3 linked regions of the Homo sapiens genome follow. The protein of the gene in region 2 interacts with the protein of the main gene of each other region in a pairwise test. Each region holds a gene or a part of one and is shown on either strand. Other genes may lie near its edges.

What was found.
Region 1: the proteins of SHC3 (region 2) and SH3GL3 interact in a two-hybrid assay, tested with the Homo sapiens proteins (one large-scale study listed by BioGRID and IntAct).
Region 3: the proteins of SHC3 (region 2) and NTRK2 interact in a two-hybrid assay, tested with the Homo sapiens proteins (one study listed by BioGRID).

What each region holds. Positions count from the first base shown.
Region 1 is NC_000015.10:83,614,720-83,618,373, reverse strand, and holds part of SH3GL3 (endophilin-A3), read right to left. Parts: intron 293-3,654; coding exon 87-292; 3' UTR 1-86. UniProt on the Homo sapiens protein: Implicated in endocytosis. May recruit other proteins to membranes with high curvature.
Region 2 is NC_000009.12:89,168,694-89,172,347, forward strand, and holds part of SHC3 (SHC-transforming protein 3), read right to left. Parts: intron 1-3,654. UniProt on the Homo sapiens protein: Signaling adapter that couples activated growth factor receptors to signaling pathway in neurons. Involved in the signal transduction pathways of neurotrophin-activated Trk receptors in cortical neurons.
Region 3 is NC_000009.12:85,015,719-85,019,372, reverse strand, and holds part of NTRK2 (BDNF/NT-3 growth factors receptor isoform a precursor), read right to left. Parts: intron 1-3,654. UniProt on the Homo sapiens protein: Receptor tyrosine kinase involved in the development and the maturation of the central and the peripheral nervous systems through regulation of neuron survival, proliferation, migration, differentiation, and synapse formation and plasticity.

The sequences.
Region 1 (3,654 bases), on a different chromosome or scaffold from region 2:
AGGATGTCACAGAACACCGCACTGAGAGCACACTGGTGTGAATTCATTTCAGTTACGAAAGTATGTCCAGAGTTTGTGTTACACATTTACTGAGGTAAAGGCACGATCACTTCCACGTAATTAATGGGGAAGAATCCCGATTCTCCGTGTATCATTCCTTCATACCAGTTTTCATCTATTTGATTGGTTAATGTAATGATGTCCCCTTCTTTAAATCCTAATTCTCCTTGGTTTTCTGGCTCAAAGTCATAGAGACCACGACAGCAGGGCTGGTCCATGGGAATGTTAGAACCTGTCCACATGATATGGAGACAAAAAGTACAGATGAACATGATGGATTATCCATGGGAAATTGGAAATGTGGAAAAGCTCAGAGAGACCCTTAACAGCAGGCCTTGCTTCCTTCCCACAAGGCCAGCTCCACCCAGCTCACGGTGCCGTTTGTGGTCTCTGGCTGCCTCAGCTCTCCCAGCTGCCTGCGCCAACCCCATGAGCCCAGAGTCTATCTTTTCAATACTCCCAGGCAGAGAAGTCGTGCCCAGCCCATCTCCCAAAAGCAGCCAGTCAGCTCCACCTGGAGCCCTAAGGGAGCGACAGAGGAATCACAGGCCCACCTCCTTCTCTCTGGGAGCTTACAGTTTCTTTGTGGGGATTAGAAAATACACGAGAAACTTTTATTTATTTATTTATCTATTTTTGAGACAGAGTCTTGCTCTGTTGCCCAGGCTGGAGTGCAATGGTGCGATCCTGGCTTACTGTAACCTCTGCCTCCCAGGTTCAAGAAATTTTCGTGCCTCAGCCTCCCAAGCAGCTGGGACTACAGGCATGCGCCACCACGCCCAGCTAATTTTGTATTTTTAGTACAGGTGGGGTTTCACCATATTGGCCAGTCTGGTCTCGAACTCCTGGCCTTAAGTGATCTGCTCACCTCAACCTCCCAAAGTGTGGGGATTACAGGCGTGATCCACTGTGCATGGCCAAAAATCTTTTAAAGAACAAATATGAAGTGTGTATCACTCATGGTTCAGGAGCTCTGGGGAGAGGGTAGTAGGGAGGACCTTGGTGGTCAGCAAGATCTTCCTAGTTAATGGGCAGGACAAGGGCCGGGAGGAGAGAAACCAGGACAAGAAAGGCAAGAATATTTACAGACCAGAATTTACAGACAAGAATATTTACTGACATCTAGTCCCAGAATAACATCAAAAACATTTTTTTCAAAACAAAATCATGCTAATTGTAAACAAAAAATACATGTATGCAAAGTGGAGAAAGAAAAGTCAGAGCTGTAAACCATTACCCCAGAGATAACTGGGCTAGCTTTCAGATTCCAGATGTCTTCATGATTATATTTGTGCATATATTTACATATAGTTGTTTTCATAAAAGATTCTTCTTGTACAAGCTAGGGTGAATATCTTTCAATTTTAGTTACTGACTAGCTGTCAGCTCTCACAATGTAACATTTCTTCAACTAATCTCCTATTGTTGGACATTTACGGTTCTTCTTTCTTTTCCTTCCTTCTCTTCTTTTCATCTCTTCTTTTCCTTCCTTCCTTCATTCTTTTCTTCCTTCTCCCTCCCTGTTTTTCTCGATTTCTCTTCCTTTTTCTTCATTTCTTTCTGTTGTCTCTTTTATTCCCCCTTGGCTTTTATAGACAATTCTTTGGGAAAAAGAGCTTATACATAAATATCTACAAATGTGCACTATTAATTTCTGAGGATAAATTCCAAGAAAAGGATTTCATGGTCATAGAACATGAATTCTTTCTAAAATATCTGACATTTAGTGTCAATTTATTTTTCTATTAGGTTGGTGCAAAAGCAATCACAGTGGCCAGGCGCAGTGGCTCACGCTTGTAATCCCAGCACTTTGGGAGGCTGAGGCGGGCGGATCACGAGTTCAGGAGATCGAGAACACAGTGAAACCCTGTCTCTACTAAAAATACAAAAAAATTAGCCGGGCGTGGTGGCGGGCACCTGTAGTCCCAGCTACTTGGAGAGGCTGAGGCAGGAGAATGGCGTGAACCCGGAAGGCGGAGGTTGCAGTGAGCCAAGATCGCGCCACCGCACTCCAGCCTGGGGGACAGAGCAAGACTCCATCTCAAAAAAAAAAAAAAAAAAAGCAATCACAATTTTTACCATTACTTTTAGTGGCAAAACCTGCAATTACTTTTGCACCAACCTAATATCACTATTTTTCTTAAGATGTTTAGAAGTCCCTTTATACTACACATATTTACCCTTTATCTGTCATTTCTGGTACAAACATTATTCCCAACTTATCATCTGTTCTTTTTTTTTCTCATTTTGTTTTTGAAGTTTGTGCTGGCAGTGGGGCAGGGAAAGGGGTTTCTATTTTGTTTTGGCATGAATGCACAAATTGAAGAGTATAAGCAGTCAAACTAATCAAACTTTCTATTCATGGTTTATTCTCCACAGTCCTATATAAAGACTCAACTAAATTTTATTCTAGTATTTTTATTTAATTTTTTTCACATCAGAACTTTTATAATCTATTTGGATTTTGGCAAAATGAGGTAAATATCTATTATATTTAATAATGCTTATGCAGTCATAACAACATACTTAAATAATCCATATTTTCTCCAGTGATTTCAAGTATTGCCTTTATCTTTATCATATATTTAATCATCATGGGACTTAGATCTATTTTTGGATTTTTTCTATTTTGTCCCACTGACTCATTTTGGTAACAGTACCATATCATTTTAAATACTGTGGCTTTATAATAAATGTTAACAGGCCGGGTGTGGTGGCTCACACCTGTAATCCCAGCACTCTGGGAGGCCAAGGCGGGCAGTTCACTTGAGGCCAGGAGTTTGAGACCACCCTGGCCAACATGGTGAAACCCCATCTCTAAAAATACAAAAGTTAGCCAGGCATGGTAGCGCATGTCTGTAATCCCAGCTACTCAAGAGGCTGAGGCAGGAGGATCACTTGAACCTGGGAGGCGGAGGTTGCAGTGAGCTGAGATCACACCACTACACTCCAGCCTGGGTGACAGAGTGAGACTCCATCTCAAAAATAAATAAATAAATAAAATGTTAATAACTAGTAAAACTAGTTCATAGTCATTACCCTTCTATTTCAATATTTCCTTGCTATTCTCATGAATTCATTTAACTAGGTATATTTCAGTATTAATATGACACATTTCTCTCACAAAAATCTCACTTCAATTTTGACTAGTTCATACTTTTTTTCTTTGAGTATTAATAAGATTAATCTTAGGAGTTTTTTTTTTTCTTAATAAGTGACTTTTGCCATCCTATTTGATGATTTCCATTTTTATTTCCTTTTTCTGTTATAAGACTTTTTCCTCCCTCTAGACTTCAAGTGAGAATTGAACAAGTTCTGCTAGAGATTATGTTCTTTCTCCACTAAGTCTTCTAGGTCCAAGTAAAGAGAATAGGTACGTTGGGGTATTTCTGTGGCTGGCCAAATGAGATGCCCCTTTGTCCTGGGGAGGGGTAGAGAGGTGACAGCATTATGGGAGGAGGAAGACAAGAGTTGGGGCAATGGAGATTCCTGTTGTGAGAAGGATTATATTATAGTTGTTTAGACAGCTTGAAATTCATGGAGTAGCGCCTATATCTCTAAGGAACAGGGCACTCTAAGGAGCCTTCATCAGCG
Region 2 (3,654 bases):
GCCCAGATATTTGGTTAAACATTATTCTGGTGTGTCTGTGAGAGTTTTTTCCTTTTTGATAAAATTAACATTTGAATCAGTAATAAACTGAATAAACAGATGGCCTTCCCCAATTTGTGTGGCCCTTGTCCAATCAGTTGAGGGCCTGAATAAAACAAAAAGCCTGACCCCTCCCCTGGATAGGAGAGAATTCCTCTTGTTGGGCTGTCTTCAAGCTGGGACACTATTTTTTCCCACCTTCAGATCAGACTGAAACATTGGCTTTTCCTGGGTCTCAAGCAGGACAGCATCAGAACTGGAACTGACACCATAAGCTTTCCTGGGTCTGGCCCACCCTGCAGATCTTGGGACTTGCCTGCCTCCAAAATTATGCAAGCCAATTCCTTATAATAAATCTCTTTTTTAATAAGCAACTCTTGGTTCTGTTTCTCTGAAGAACCCTGACTAATACTATTAAAAACAACTTGGGAGAACACCCATTTCCAGAAGGCTCCTCTGATGCTGGAAGAGGCCCTGCCGGACACTGAGCAGAGGAGGTTGAGAGGTGTGACTCCCACCTCCCCACCTGAGGACTAGGAGGCCTGCCCCTCCTCACAGCTCTCAGTGCTTCTCAGGGACCACAGAGTCAAATCCAGGACGTCTGAGCACATAACGGGACCCTGAACCACTTGGCCATATTTGGTATCACTGTTAAGCCCAAGGCTGCAACTTATTAGTCAAGAACATGGTGTGCTCTCCAAGCACTGAGGCGGAGGCACCACCCAGACCTGCACAATTCTAGAGCTCCACTAACACATTTGTAAGTTCATTCCTGAAGGACAGTCACCACGTGCCAACTTGAGGCCCTCATTCCCACTGCGTGAGGAGGGCCTTCATGTCTAGAAGGAATTTGGACATCCAGGCCACTGCTTGACCCACACCAGGGCAAAGGCAGGCCCACACAAGTCCACAGAAGAGCAACAGGCAAAACCCGAAAGTCTGGAAACCACTCCTAAATAGTGCAAGGCGGGGGTGGGGTGCAGATGGCACTGAGCTGATGGCTGTTGAAGTTGGGTGGCGGGCCATTTGTCCCTGGGGCCTCATTTTACCATTCTCTCTATTTTGTTGTGTTTATATGTTTCCTATGATGATGTATGTTTTAAAATCCTCATAATAAATGTTTAAATTTCATAAAAGGGTGGTTTACAAGGCATGTTACAAGGTTGGCAGGTGACCTTGCAAGACAGGCAGGGCTGCAAGCGGAGGAGGTGGAGATCAGTGTGAGGCGGGTTAGGCTCCCTCACCCCTCCTGCCAGGTCAGGGATGGGCAGGACAAATGGGCTCAAGGCTCTCTTTCTCCTGCTGCCAGTTTTTAGGGGCCTTTCCTGCTGAGTGGGTTGTGGAGGCCTTTTCCTTGGGAAGATCCGAGGCGTCCAAACCAAGACTCAAGAGGGAGAGGCAGCAAGGAGGGATGCGCTAAATCCTGGGTGGTGAGGGGCTCCTGTTTGGGATTCGACATGGTACAGCACAGGGGCACATCCAGGAACTAAACAATGTGCCTGGCATGGGCCAACCTGTATTTTTGCCAGCCTGAAGCATAGCTCATGCAGTCAAAATCAGCAGGGAGGGCCCACCATGGCCAGAAGAGACACCTGCACTACTCACTTTAATCCTAGAAAGATGCATATGTCGGCCTGGCACAGTGGCTCATGCCTGTAATCCCAACACTTTGGGAGGCTGAGGCAGACAGATCACTTGAGGCCAGGAGTTCAGGACCAGTCTGGGCAGCATAGGGAAGCCCCATCTCTACAAAAAGTAAAACAATTAGCCAAGCATGGTGGTGTGTGCCTGTGTCCCAGCTATTCGGGAGGCTGAGGAGGGAGGATCGCTTGAGCCTGGGAGGTCAAGGCTACAGTGAGCCATGATCAGGCCACTGGATTCCAGTCTGGGCGACAGAGCAAGACTCCATCTCAGAAATAAACAAGTGCATATGCTAGGGAATAATGGAATACAGTTGGCCCTCCAAATTCATGACAATATTTTTTTAAATACATGATAAAAATAAGAATACAAAAATTAAAAATAACACAAATCGAACAATGCAGTATAACAAATATTTGTGTAGCATTTACATTATAATAGATATTCGTAATCTAGAGATATTACATTTATAGTATACGGTGTATGGAAGATGTGCATAAGTTATTTGCAAATACTGCACCAGTTTATATCAGGGACTTGAACATGCTCGAATTTTGGTATCCATGGGGTTCCTGGAACCAATCCCCCTCAGATCTCAAGGGATGATTGTACACAAACCCCTCATAATTCACTTACATTTTGTCCATCTTCCGGAGGGACAATAAGTCATTGTGAAGGGCTGTGTCTTCCAGGCAAAGAACACTCAAAACAACTAGGTTTTCATCATTTTATCTTAAGAAATAAAAGCCATCTGTGACTCCTGCTTTGGTAAACTGTAAGAGGCCCAGAGTATACAGTACCTCTGCTAAATACCACCTTAGGGGTAAATTCCTTGTCAACAGAGCTAGAACCATATTTTGATTTTTTTTTTTTGAAAAAAACAGAAAGTTTCTATTTGGGCAGGTGGCAGTGGAAATTTTTAATGTTTGCAAAGCAAAAAGCACTATTGTCAGTAGATTGCCAAACAATTATATTTAATGGAATTTGATAAAATGAAGTTTGTCAGAATGACCTCAGAGTAGAGAGCACTTCTGATGTGAGGCTGGGTGAAGGCCAAGTTCCAGAGTTTGAAGGGTTCATACGAGTTTAAATTCTTGAAATTTGGAATGGACTGTTTGCTTCTTTTTCTGCCTATTCAATAGACGAAAGTGAGCAAAGCCTCTTTTGAGGGGTTCTCCACTTCGGGGAAACCATGCATTTCAGATGATATCCAAGGATGGCTTCAAGTCTGAAGTAAGCAGCATTATAACAATGAGCTCTTTGAACATTTTTCTTCTTGGTTTTGAGGAGCTTCAGATATCCAGACAGCTGCTGAGGCATCAGGCACCTGGAAGCTCCAATGGACAGGGTAAGGCACCTGCTCAAGCTGTCTCCTCGATTTCCCTTTTCTGCAGCTTCTTCCAGCATCTAGGCTTCACTGCAGATCCTCACAGGCACCTGGGCTCATGGCTAGAAACCCAAATCTTCACTAGATGGCAGTGGTATCTGCCAGACCAGCTGAGGTGCAGAGCAAGGCATGTCTGAGCCCAGAATCCATAGATCATAGAATCCATGGATCTAACTAAACTGCTGCCACCTGCCTCAAAAAGAAACCCGCCAGAGGTGCCATCCAGAGCTGAGAAGATGCTCGCCAGCCAAGAAGAGCAGTGCCTCTTCCAGTCATGTCAGGTGGTACAGGAGGGCTGAGGTATATCCGGCACCTTCTCACCAACTCTCCTCACAAAGACAAAGAAGATCAGCATGGCCTGTAACCATGGAAACATGGCCTTTGGCCCCTGGTATCTCACTGGGGTTCAAATGGTCCAAATAGGGATGCCTAATCCCTCTGACCCCAGTGTAACTGGTGCCACTCTGCTTATTTATAACCGTGACTGCTCTGCAACTCTGACGTGGCCACTCAGGGAAAATTCACCAATTCTAGCACTGGGAGACATGGATTAATTACTCCCAGTGGACCCTCAGTGGATCCTTGTC
Region 3 (3,654 bases), 4.2 Mb from region 2:
CAGATTTCTGCACAGTAGTCCTGTGGCGGTAGGTTCTGCTTTTCATCCTGGTAACCCCCCAGCACCACCATGCTACACAGTATGCCTGACAGCTGAGAGCAGGTGGGCTTATCCTACAGCAGAAAATTGGACCTCTCTAACAACTCTGGGTCCTGAGTTTATAGAGTAATGGTGCATAGAGTTTCTGCCCAATTCTAATCTCAATATCCAGTTAGTATTTATTAAAGGAAGAAAATAAACTAATAGTGTCTGGAAAATGTTCCCCTACCCCAGAACCCAAGAGGCTGAAATGTCAGAGATGTCTAACATGCTTGGTGATTCCCAGTGATGTTCTTAGCACCAAAGAAAGCACAAGAGTACAAAAGGGGGAGGATATTTTATTTCATTCTTCTCTGTATGATGCATCCAAATTTGACAAATAGGGACAAAAACTTCTGGCTCAGGTGACCCATCTCTACTATTCAGTTTTTAATAAACAAAAAGCTCATAAAGGCTAAGTTGGCTTCCATTGGCCTTAGATTTCCTCACTCTTCCTTCAGCAGTGACAGGTCATCAGTGTTCAATGGACAGAGACTTCTCTTATGGTCTTACTTGATGTCTGAAGGTGGTGGCAACAGTCACCCTCAGGGTCGATACTCAAACTGCAATCAGTGTGGCACAGACACTGACCAACCAGAAAGGATGTGGGTAGTAAATATGGGTGCAGCTATTTCAGCACATTTCTGGTTTGGCAAATATCTGCCCTGTTTATAACTCTGTGACCCCCAGGTGCCCAGGACTTTGGGAGAGGGAATCTGCTGACATACACAGAGGACCTGTTGTTTCCAGATGCTTTGGAGGACTTGCGGTATGAGGGTAGAATGATCTCACCAGGTCTGGGCAGCCCACATGGCAATGCCAAGGAGAGGACTGCTTTGGGCCATGCAGGGATGCTGCTGCCACCTTGCAGAGGTGGGCAAATGACCCTTCTGTTTATGTGCCAGAAAAGGCTGGGCACTTTGGCACACACATTTTCAAAGATTGTTAACCCCTAGAATAAAGCATCTCTAGTCTCCTTGCCATTCTCTGAAGCCATAATTGGAATGTACCATATGGTTTAGAAAACATCTATACACGTCTGGTGTCATTTAATTGTGTGAGCAAACCATAAAGAACTCAGGACTCTTGGTGGCACCTCTAGCCTACAGATGATGAAATTGCTCCTGGCAATTATGTGACCTTGCCTGGGTGGTGCAGATAGGACAGAGGTCTACACATTTTAACAGACCATTTTCATCCACACAGCAAGCATTTTATGGGAACCTCTTAAGATACAAACATGGCATTGTTTTGCTTACCTAACATGCAAAAAAAAATGGGTAAGATGAAATCAAAGGGAAAAATAATCCCTTCTGCTATACATCTTATTTTTAACCTTACCTCTCTCATTTTAACCTTCTTCCTACCCTATAAAGAAGAGCTCATTTCATCATTGTTCATGTCAGCATAGTGCTATGGTGCAACCAGCTCCACTGTGCATTTTGGTGTTGCTGTTCTTTCTCGTTAGATAAAATAGAACCCCAGTGGTCAAAGTGGGCTTAGAGAAGTAGGAATCTTAAAATAAAGACTGGGACCTGGTCTTCTTGTTATGCTGTCTGAGTTGTGTTATTTTAACAACCCCAGAAGTTCCTAGATCAAATATGTCAAATGTACTGTAAATTGCAACCCTCTTCAATTCAAGGAGATCCATCAGGGACTGAGGCTTATTAAAGTATGTGAGGAGTTTGGCAGGAAAGAACAAACTTAACTTTGGTAAATTAAACTATTTGAATGTATGTTTGTGGGAGAGATAACCATTTATATATGTCTCAGGTAAGACAGCTAAAAATACACTTTGAGGTGTGTTAATCTAGCAAGATCTCAGGATTTCCATATCTACCTGGATATTCACAGCTGCAATGCAGTGGATGACAATAGCTGGTTTCCAATCGCTCACTTACCTGTTTCCTACTGGGGTAACCTGGACTAGTTGCCAAATCTCTCTGTGGCCAAGGTTTAATAATTATATGTAAGTAATAATGTATACCTCCTAATGTTGTTGGGAGGTATTTACTCAAGCAGGCATTTGTGAAAGTGTTTTCTAAGTCTTAAAGTATTAATGCTTTTGAGGTGTGGCTTTCTTCTCTGGAACCTTCACTCTCTTACTTACTCCAGAAGCAGCCATTCTGGAGACATTAAGAAGAATCATCATATGTCACTCTCCTGAACTCTTCATTTGGCCTTAACCAAGTGGCTCCTTTGATAGCAGCACCCACTTTTTTTGGTCATTAGCAATGCAAGATAGAAAACCTGATACTGGTTCTCTATCCTGAATTGCTAATAGCCAAGAAAAAGCTTCTGTTTCCTTTAAAGAAGAGAGAGAGAACAAAAGATTCACGTTTTGATTTACATGTTTTCTCATCTGATCATTTATTTTCTGCTTGCTGTCTCTTTGGGGCAGATTTTTCACTCTAATTCTTTCAAGAATCCCTTCTGGGATTTCACGCATGCTGTTATAAATAATGCTTTCCTTGTTCAGATGTCAAATGGGTGAGTGGTGGGACAATCTAATAAAAGTTCAGACAGGGTTCACAAGTTTTCTAAGCCCATTTAGTACATTTCTGAACATTTCTTTTGCAACCCTTTCTCAGAATTTTGAAGCATGTCACAAAAGTAGACCCTCCCCCCAAAAAAGTCACTGTTGTTACAAATTACTGTCACATTCTAGTTATAGTCACTTGATGGTTTTTGGACCACACAAACAACACACTGTGCAGCAACAAACACAATGAGACATTTGTTTTGTATCGTACTACTTGGCAACTTGCCCTCATGCCCTTGCTTAAATATTTGTGAGATGGAATGTGATCCCAGGAATGACACTGAGAGTCAGAATTCCTGCTCTCAGCCTGATATGCTGTGGGGCCTCAGGGGCTCTCCAGTAATTAAGTTGAATGGGGTCTCATGGTCTTCACTAAACTCACCAGGTTGACCTGGTGCAAGATGAGAAACCCAGTTATCTGGAGAGTTGACTTGGACTTGCAATTTTTATTTTCCTCAACCCAAGAGACTGGAGTTCTAGTTCTTGTGCTGCTGCTATTAACCAGCTTGAGCAGGTACCCTCAGGTCTGGCTTCTGTCTTTATTGGTAAAATGTGAAGAGTTAGGGCAGCCCTTGGTTACTTCCAGCACAAAAACGCCGTGGTTCCGGAATCACCCACCACCTCAGTGCCACCGTAATCATCCATCAACACTCAGTCTTCAACATTTACGAAGAATTTCTATTCAATTATCTCACTTGAACCCAACAGTTATGCTCTACAGCAGACATGGACTTGCCTGGATAGTGCAAGTAATGCCCCTAAAAGTCAGTCAGTTTAAGTAGTTTACCTAAAGCCACATACCAAACCTTTCCCCATTGGACATCCTGTATTCATTAGGATGGACCACTCTGCTTTTCTGCTTTCTCCAGTCTCCACACACACTCTGTGTTCAGCCAGCAAGCTTAGGTGGCTTCCTACCCAGGGCCAAGTTACTCATGCCTCTTAGAAAGTTTGATCTTCTTCCCTTTCTCCCTACTTCCCAAAGGTCTCCTTTATGAAGGCAAGCTCAAGTCCCACCACTTCAAGAAAAAACT